Linked DNA regions of Homo sapiens: region 1 is linked to region 2. Evidence: fine-mapped expression QTL. A gene starts in region 2. The other region holds a variant in brackets. All regions are shown on one strand. Distances are from middle to middle.

Region 1 (4,386 bases), 21 kb before region 2:
CAGGTAGCAAACACTGTTCCCTATTCCCTCCTGCACACATCCACATGGGCTTATTTTCAATGTCAGTGTCTAGGCATTTTAATTACCAGGCATTGTTCTAGGTCCTGGGTTTCTGAGTCTTTTGACACAACGGCAGTGGTCTTTGAGCACTTCCTTGATTTGTAGTATGCCAAGAGGTATATCTCCTCCCCCAGACCTGGAATCAGCCCTTTCTCCCAGGACCATTTGTTCCCTTCAGTGGGAAATATATCTAGAAACCAGAATGTGGCCCCAGGGGAGCTCATTTCTTCTGTGCTCATGATTTTTTTCTAGGACTTCTCAATGGATAAGAGCTGAGATGGTGAATATTAGGGGAGGAGATATAGTAGGAGATGAAGAAAAAACTACTTTCTCTAGGTCATTTTTCTATTTTCAATAGAAAAAATTTTCTATTATCAATCATTTAGTGTATATATATATATTTTTTGAGACAGAGTCTCTCTCTGTTGCTCATGCTGGAGTGCAGTGGCATGATCTCGGCTCACTGTAACCTCCACCTCCTGGGTTCAAGCAATTCTCCTGCCTCAGCCTCCCGAGTAGCTGGGTCTACAGGCGTGCACCACCATGCCCAATTGATTTTTGTATTTTTAGTAGAGACGAGGTTTCACCATGTTGGCCAGGATGGTCTCTATCTCTTGACCTTATGATCCGCCCGCCTTGGCCTCCCAAAGTTCTGGGATTATAGGTATGAGCCACCACGCCCAGCCTAGTTTATATTTTTGATTTTAATAACTAATACATCTGTTAAAATACCTTTATAGTTACTATAGATGTATAATACATCTGTTAAAATACCTTTATAGTTGCTACAGATGTATAGTACATCTGTTAAAATACCTTAAGAGTTGCTACTGAACGCATCGTGGCATTGCCAGTCTGGGTGAGGTAGGTTGCTGCCATACCTTCCCATGAGTTACAACCTGGGTGCCCGTGCCTAACTCTGATCTTCTGGTTCCTGTGCCAAGGTTCCCACCAGAGATGGAGGGTGACAGTGGTTGCTGGGCAGGAGTTGGGGAGACGGGCCAAGTGAGGCCCAAGGCACCAGGGGGTAGGAAGCAAGTGGCTTGGGTTGGTCCCTGGGAAGTGGGGAGGCAGCAGGAGGTGGGACCCTCCATGAGCCAGGGTGCAAGCTCCAGTGCATGCCCTGTTGTTTCATCAGACTTCACTTACAACACACAGATTCAAAGATCAAATTACTAAGGGCCAGGCACAGTGGCCCACACCTGTAATCCTGCACTTTGGGAGGCCAAGGTGGGCGGATCACTTGAGGTCAGAAGTTCGAGACCAGCCTGGCCAATGTGGGGAAACCCCGTTTCTACTAAAAATACTAAAATTAGCCAGGTGTGGTGGCACACACCTGTAGCCCCAGCTACTTGGGAGACTGAGGCAGGAGAATCACTTGAACCTGGGAGGCAGAGGTTGCAGTGAGCCAAGATCACACCATTGCACTCCAGCCTGGTGACAGAGCGAGACTCCGTCTCAAAAAAAAAGAAGATAAAATGAGTAAGAATTTTTCAAGATGGCAACTGCAAAGCACTAAACCTCAAATAGGGGGCTCTCCAGAGCACAGGGCCCTGTGAGACTGCACCTGTCCTATGTCCATGAAGCAGTCCCTGTCTATACAGTACGTGGTAGAAGTTTTTAGAATATGGTCTGGGGTCCTGAGGATCATGGAGACCCTTCAAGTGATTTGTGAGATCAAAAGCATTTTCATAAAAATACTAAGACATTTTTGCCTTTTTTACTCTCATTGTCTCAGGAGCGTGCAGTGGGGTTTTCCAAAGGCTACTTGACTTGCGATACTGAAACAGATGGAATGCAGAAGCAGAGAATCCTGCTGTCTCCTATTAAGCCAGACATTGAAGAGTTTGTTTTTTTGTGTGTTTTTTGTTTTCATTTTTTTTGTTTGTTTTTTGAGACGGAGTCTCACTCTGTTGCCCAGGCTGGAGTACAGTGGTGCAATCTCAGCTCACTGTAACCTCTGCCTCCCAGGTTCAAGCAATTCTCCTGCCTCAGCTTCCTGAGTAGCTGGGATTATAGGCGCATGCCACCACACCCAGCTAATTTTTGTATTTTCAGTAGAGACGGGGTTTCACCATGTTGGCCAGACTGGTCTCGAACTCCTGACTTTAGGTAATCTGCTCGCCTTGGGCTCCCAAAGTGTTGGGATTACAAGCGTGAGCCACTGCACCCAGCCTTTTTGTAGGGCTTT[T/TG]TTGTGTGTGTGTGTGTGTGTGTATTCTTTGTGGTTTTCTATATATAGGATCATGTCATCTGTTAATAAAGATAATTTTACTTCCTCCCTTCCAATTTGGATGCTTTTTTTTTTTTCTTTTTCTTGGCTAATTGCTCCATCTAGGAGTTCTAGTACAGTGTTGAATAGCAGTGGTGAAAACAGGCATCCTTGTCTTATCCCTGATCTTAAGAGAAAAGTTGGCCGGGCACAGTGGCTCATGCCTGTAATCCCAGCACTTTGGGAGGCCGAGATAGGTGGATCACCTGAGGTTGGGAGTTCGACACTAGCTTGACCAACATGTAGAAACCCCCGTCTGTACTAAAAATACAAAATTAGCCAGGTGTTGTGGCACATGCCTGTAATACCAGCTACTTGGGAGGCTGAGGCAGGAGAATCACTTGAACCCAGGAGACAGAGGTTGCGATGAGCCGAGATCGCGCCATTGCACTCTATCCTAGGCAACAAGAATGAAACTCCACCTGAAAAAAAAAAAAGAGGAAAATTTTGCTTTTTACCATTGAGTATGATGTTAGCTGTGTTTTTCATCAGGTTGAGGATAGTCTCCTTCTATTCCTAGTTTGCTGAATGTTTTATCAAGAAAGCCTCAATAATTTTTAAGAACGTGGAGTGTCCGTGAGACCCGTTTGAGAACTGCAGATCTAGAGTATTAGTTAAGAGCAAGGGCTGTAAAGTTAGTCTACCTGGTTTTGAACTGCAGCTGGGCCACTTATTTGCTATAAGACCTTGGCCAATTTACTTAACCTTTCTGTGCCCTAGTTTCCTTACTTGGAAAATAGGAATGACGATAATAGTAACATGATCTACCTCAGAGGGTTAAATTAAAATGAGATGAATACATATTAGAACGGTGCCCAATGTAGGATAAGTGCTCAACAAATGTTAGCAAGTATTCAAAGAACCAAACCAATTTCAATACTGGCTGACAATTTCTGTATTACTCTTTTCCTAAAGTCTACCCTACAAGGATTTAATAATTTGACTTCACTTTTGATTAACACAAGATGCCTCATTTTTCAAATTTACATTTCTGTAATTGTTATTGTTTACATTTTTGTCATAGTTGTTTTTCTTCTTAATCCATTTTAACTGTCCAATTGTGCTTTTATTATTAGCTGTCTTACCCACTGCTTTGATACAGTCAAATATAAGATAAATAACTAAATTTAGGCCAGTTTATACCACATTATCAAGGCTGTTGTTGTGTCAATAAAAATAATAATAGGGCTCCAAGGACTGAAATTATCTGTCCCACATGTTCTGAATCTTTTAAATAATCTATGAAGACTAGGCACAGTTGCTGTGATTCTACTGCAGTGATATAAATATGACCTTCCACGAAAAAGCATGTCATGGCCAGAAGTAAAATTCAAAGCAGCAGGTTGGGTTTCAGAGTCTACGATGCTAGAATATGCTGCCTCTCTGGTTACAGGGAAATAAATATAGACCAGACTGATTATGTGAACACATTTTATTTAACTTTGCCCATCTTTACTCATTTCCCAGCCAACAGAAACTAAATCAACCCAGCTATAAGTAGGTCTGCTTATCTCTTTCCTTCCAGCCTCAGAAATTTCCCTTCTTTTCAAGGCTAAATTTTCCATCTTTGCTGTTGAGTTTATTCCCTTGCTGTCTTGCTAAATTACCTGTCCATTTTTTTTTCTTTTTTTTTTTTGAGACGGAGTTTTGCTTTTGTTGGCCAGACTGCAGTGCAGTGTTGCGATCTTGGCTCACCACAACCTCCATCTCCCGAGTTCAAGCAATTCTCCTGCCTCAGCCTCCTAGGTAGCTGCAATTACAGGCATGCGCCACCATGCCCGGCTAATTTTGTATTTTTAGTAGAGATGGGGTTTCTCCACGTTGGCCAGGTTGGTCTCGAACTCCTGACCTCAGGTGATCCACCCGCCTCAGCCTCCCAGAGTGATGGGATTACAGGCGTGAACCACCGTGCCTGGCCTGTCCATTTCCTTTCTGGTGACTTTGATGTCTCCATTTCCACTGGTTCCTTTCCTTGATATCCACAAATACATAACTAATTTCCCTAACAGAAAAACATCTCCTCAAAGCCTCTGCTTCAGCTTCTGAGTGTCTTCCTT
Region 2 (4,386 bases):
GCATTAAGAGAGAAACTGGCCGGGCGCGGTGGCTCACGCCTGTAATCCCAGCACTTTGGGAGGCCGAGGCGGGCGGATCACGAGGTCAGGAGATCGAGACCATCCCGGCTAAAACGGTGAAACCCCGTCTCTACTAAAAATACAAAAAATTAGCCGGGCGTAGTGGCGGGCGCCTGTAGTCCCAGCTACTTGGGAGGCTGAGGCAGGAGAATGGCGTGAACCCGGGAGGCGGAGCTTGCAGTGAGCCGAGATCCCGCCACTGCACTCCAGCCTGGGTGACAGAGCGAGACTCCATCTCAAAAAAAAAAAAAAAAAAAAAAAAAAAAAAAAAAAAAAAAGAGAAACTGTTGTCAACAAAAAAATCATGTAATTCCCAATATGTATATCACAATACCTTGAAACTTTGCCATGTCACTTGGGTCCCTTGTGGGCTCTGAGGGAGCAGCTCTGAGACTGATGCAACAAGGTTGGGTGTTGATGGAAGGGATGGGCTGGCTTGGGAGCCTGGCTGGGAGCTCAGAGGTATAGGAGGAAGTGTCTCTTGTCAGGGAGGAAGTAGGAGTTTAAGGAGAGTGGTGAAGGTTAGGGGTGGAAGAGGGTGATGTGCAGGTGACAGGTGAGGACACCTCTTGGAGAAACTTTGGATATGTCACAGTGTGGGCCAAGGCTTAAACGTTATGCACTCAGAGCTGGAGAAGCCTTCAAGAAGAACTAGGATGAAGGATTAGGAGAACTGGCATTTGAAAAGTGGAGTGGCCCTGGAGCAGGCCATACCTCCTCGTAGCTCATTTTCCTCATGTCTAAAATGAGCCAAATGGTCTTTTAGAGGCTAGGTGCGGTGGCTCACACCTGTAATCCCAGCACTTTGGGAGGCCGAGGAGGGAGGATCACTTGAGCCCAGGAGTTTGAGACCAGCTTGGGCAACATAGTGAGACCCTGCCTCTACAAAGAAGTGGTGCGAGACTGTAGTCCCAGGAGCTAAGGAGGCTAAGCTGGGAGGATGGCTTGGCGTGGGAAAGTGGGGACTGCAGTGAGCCCTCATCTCTCCACTGCCTCTAGCCTGGTTTGCAGAGTGAGACCCTGTCTTAAAAAAATAAAAATAAAAATAGGCTGGGCGCGGTGGCTCACGCCTGTAATCCCAGCACTTTGGGAGGCCGAGGCGGGCGGATCACGAGGTCAGGAGATCAAGACCACGGTGAAACCCCGTCTCTACTAAAAATACAAAAAATTAGCCCGGCGCGGTGGCGGGCACCTGTAGTCCCAGCTACTCTGGAGGCTGAGGCAGAATGGCGTGAACCCCGGGAGGTGGAGCTTGCAGTGAGCCAAGATTGCACCACTGCACTCCAGCCTGGGTGACAGAGCGAGACTCTGTCTCAAAAAAAAAAAAAAATAAAAATAATAAATAAATAAATAAATAAATAAATAAAATAAACCCCTCAAATGGCAACAGCAAAAACACATAAATGGTCTCTTAAATTCCCTGGAAGTTGTAAAGACAGTAAGTACATGCCGGTACCTCCCTCAGTTGCTTGAGCTGTTCTCCTGGAACTCACTGCCCTTCAGATAGCCACAACACTTGACACACAATATTTTCCATACCCGTAGGCATCTATCATTCAGAGGAAGAGGCTTATCTTCCAGTCTTTGTACCCTGCAGGGCCCAATGCAGGCTGGCTGGTGGGCACCTGGCCTCCAGGAATGCTTCCTGGAATAGCAATGAATGGCGCTCTAGTCTCTTAGAGTCTCAGCATTTATGTCCATTTCAATTAAAGAAAAAAAAAAAAAAAGAATCGCAGGAGGTGGTGTAGTGAGCAGCACAGGATAACGCGCTTCGTAGGTATGAACTCAGTTAACCCCACAGTCACACTATGAAGTGTGTTATCCCCATTTCCCAGATAAGGGAAAAGACAGAGAGGTTAAGTAATTTGACCAAAGTCAACAGCTGGTGACTGGAGAGCCAGGTTTAAAAACCGGATGCCGGCTCCGTGCAGCAGCCCGCCGATGGCTACTGGAGCGGAGAGGTTCCGAGGTTTCAGGGGCATTTTGTCCTTTCCCACTTCTGGGCCGTGGGCTCCCCCATAGACGATCCCGCGGGCCCTTCCTCCTCTGACACCCTCGGATCTGGTTCCACCTTTCCCGGACCGCAGCTCAGCCCCGCGCCTCTCCAGCTCTTCGATGACCGGTTCCCGGCCGTGCCCCGGGCCCTCCCTCGGAGCGCGCGCCGCCAGGGGCACCTGTCCCTGCGCGGGGGTGTCGCCGCCCCTCGGCGCCGCCGGGCGCTTGCCGCTGAGCCGTGGCGCCCCTGGCAGGAGCACTGCAAGGACGCCTCCCGGGACTGCACCGCGGCCCTGCGCACTTGGGGCGACGGGGCCAGGCGCGGGGGACGGCTGCGGGCTGGGAGGGCGCGCGGAGGAGACACCGCTGAGGGGACGCCGCTGAGGGCGCCACGCGGGGGGCGCGGCTGAGGCGCCTCGAAGGGCAAGCGCCAAGGGGGCGCGGGCGCCGCCGGAAGCTGGGGCGGGGCGCCCAGCGGGATGCGGTGAAGGGCGAGCGGCGCGGCGGCTGCGATGAGTGCCTCTGCGGCCACCGGGGTCTTCGTGCTGTCCCTCTCGGCCATCCCGGTCACCTATGTCTTCAACCACCTGGCGGCCCAGCATGAGTGAGTGAGCCGGCGCGGCGGGGGTCGCGCCGAGGGGCGGCGGGAGTTGGCTCGCCGCGACGGGAGCCTCGCAACTTTTCCGAGGGGGCTGGGACCGTCCGCCGCGGGACAGAGGTTCGTGGCCGCAGGGGCTCCCCGCGCCTGGCCAGACTAGGGGGGCGCCCCAGGGGTCGCACGGGCCGGGTCTTGGAGCCGGGCCCTGAGGTGCCCAGGCTGGCGCATTTCGGGATGTTGGTGCCAGCACCGCGCCAGGTGCCCGGGGTCACAGGCGTCAATACGGCCATGCCCCTGCCCTGGAGGGGCCCAGGGGCCGGTGGGGAGCGGAACAAACACGGACACTACGAACCTGGCCGTGTCAGCTCGTTTGTGCCTTGTTCTTTTTGCATCTCACGGGAACGTTTCCATGTATGGACTTTCGCATACTTATCATTTCTTATTAATTTTAGAAACTGTTGTGAATGACTAGCAGAAATAGCCCGGAACCAACAGGCAGAGACGTGGGTTCTAGGCCTGGCTTTGGCACTGACGGTGTCTGGCCTGACGGTGTTTGGCACTGACGGTGTGGTCTGGCCTCGGTTTTCCGGTCAAGTGGACTTTGTGTGCGTCCTATTGTAAGGTTCCACCGAGACCTCTTTGTGAAGGGGCGTTGTGAATGGAGAAGTGCTTCCCAGTGCCTGCGCTGGGGTAGGATGGGGACAGGCAGCAGAGGCAGAACACTTCAATGTGAAGGAAATGGGTGGGGCTGATGGAGGGGGACAGGGCTTGGGTTCGAAGCCCTGCCTCCCACTCCACTGCAGGGATCACGGACTAACCTGCAGCCGGCAGCTGAAGGCCTGAGGGTCGCCGGGTGTTGGGACAGGCGCCAGCCTCTGTTCCTGCTGATGTTGGTTGCTGTCTGGAGGGAGGAGGAAGTAACCTGCTATGTCTCTCAGCTGTTGGTGCTAAGGAAATTGCATCAGTCTGTAGGCTGCAAACCCCCTTCAGCTGGTCAGGCCGTGGAGTGTCTGTACATAGGGTGGTAACTTCCTCCTCTCCAGCTGCCTGGCCGCCTGATACAGGCAGCACCCACACTGAGTGCTCACCAGGCACCAGCAGTGTCTACCCTTGGTCTGGCCCAGTCTCTGGAGGCATCCCCTGGAGGCAGCTGCTCTGGGCCACCGAATATTACATGCCTGTCAATATAGTGCATGGGGGACCCTGTGCTCCAAAAAATGGCATTACGGGTAGTTCAGTGAAGATATACTGAGTGCCTACTGTGTGTTTGGCACTGTTCCAAGTGTTGGTGACATAGCTATGAACAAGCCAGAAGAGGCTGTGGAGGCAGGTAATGAGATAGACATCAACAAACATTAATACATCGATAGTGACATGCTATGAAGATAATAAAATAGGGTGACTGGGGAGGGGGCTGGTGGCCAGGGAAGGCTTCTAGGAGGAGGTAACACTTGAGCTATGGGAAGATCTGGGAATGGAGCCTGTCGGGCAGGAAAATGGAGCAGTGCAGGGGAAGGAATTGGATGGGCGTAGTAGGTATTTTGGAAGGTGAACAGATGGGGCTTACTGAAGAGGGTTGCATGGCAGCAGAGGATTTGAGGATGAGCCCTAGGTTTTGGCCTCAGCCACTGGGAAGATGGTGATGGCATTTACTGAATACAGACTGAACTATGTATTGCTGTGCATGATGGAGCGCACTGGCAAGCACTACAGCATTTTGAATAATTAGTGTC

Direction of the effects. Alleles are on the strand shown, and positions count from the first base shown. SD is a standard deviation of normalised expression in the study named.
In carriers of allele TG in region 1, the expression in monocytes of the gene that starts at base 2,532 in region 2 tends to be higher than with T alone (moderate effect, 0.50 SD a copy in Quach 2016).

Evidence for each region. PIP is the estimated chance that this variant, and not a neighbour inherited with it, causes the effect. A credible set is the group of variants that fine-mapping cannot tell apart.
Region 1: its variant is the best candidate, but not a certain one, in a credible set for the expression of TM6SF1 in monocytes (Quach 2016, PIP 0.84).

Annotation. Positions count from the first base shown.
Region 1 is chr15:83,084,062-83,088,447 of GRCh38, forward strand. No RefSeq gene overlaps it. Among named protein-coding and RNA genes, the nearest start is that of MIR4515, 19 kb to the left of the region's middle. The variant T/TG (reference allele first, on the strand shown) is at 2,252.
Region 2 is chr15:83,105,114-83,109,499 of GRCh38, forward strand. It overlaps TM6SF1 (transmembrane 6 superfamily member 1), which reads left to right and starts at 2,532. Exons shown (of 10, transcript NM_023003.5): 1 at 2,532-2,659. The coding sequence starts at 2,568. RefSeq lists silencers at 2,160-2,439, 2,470-2,589.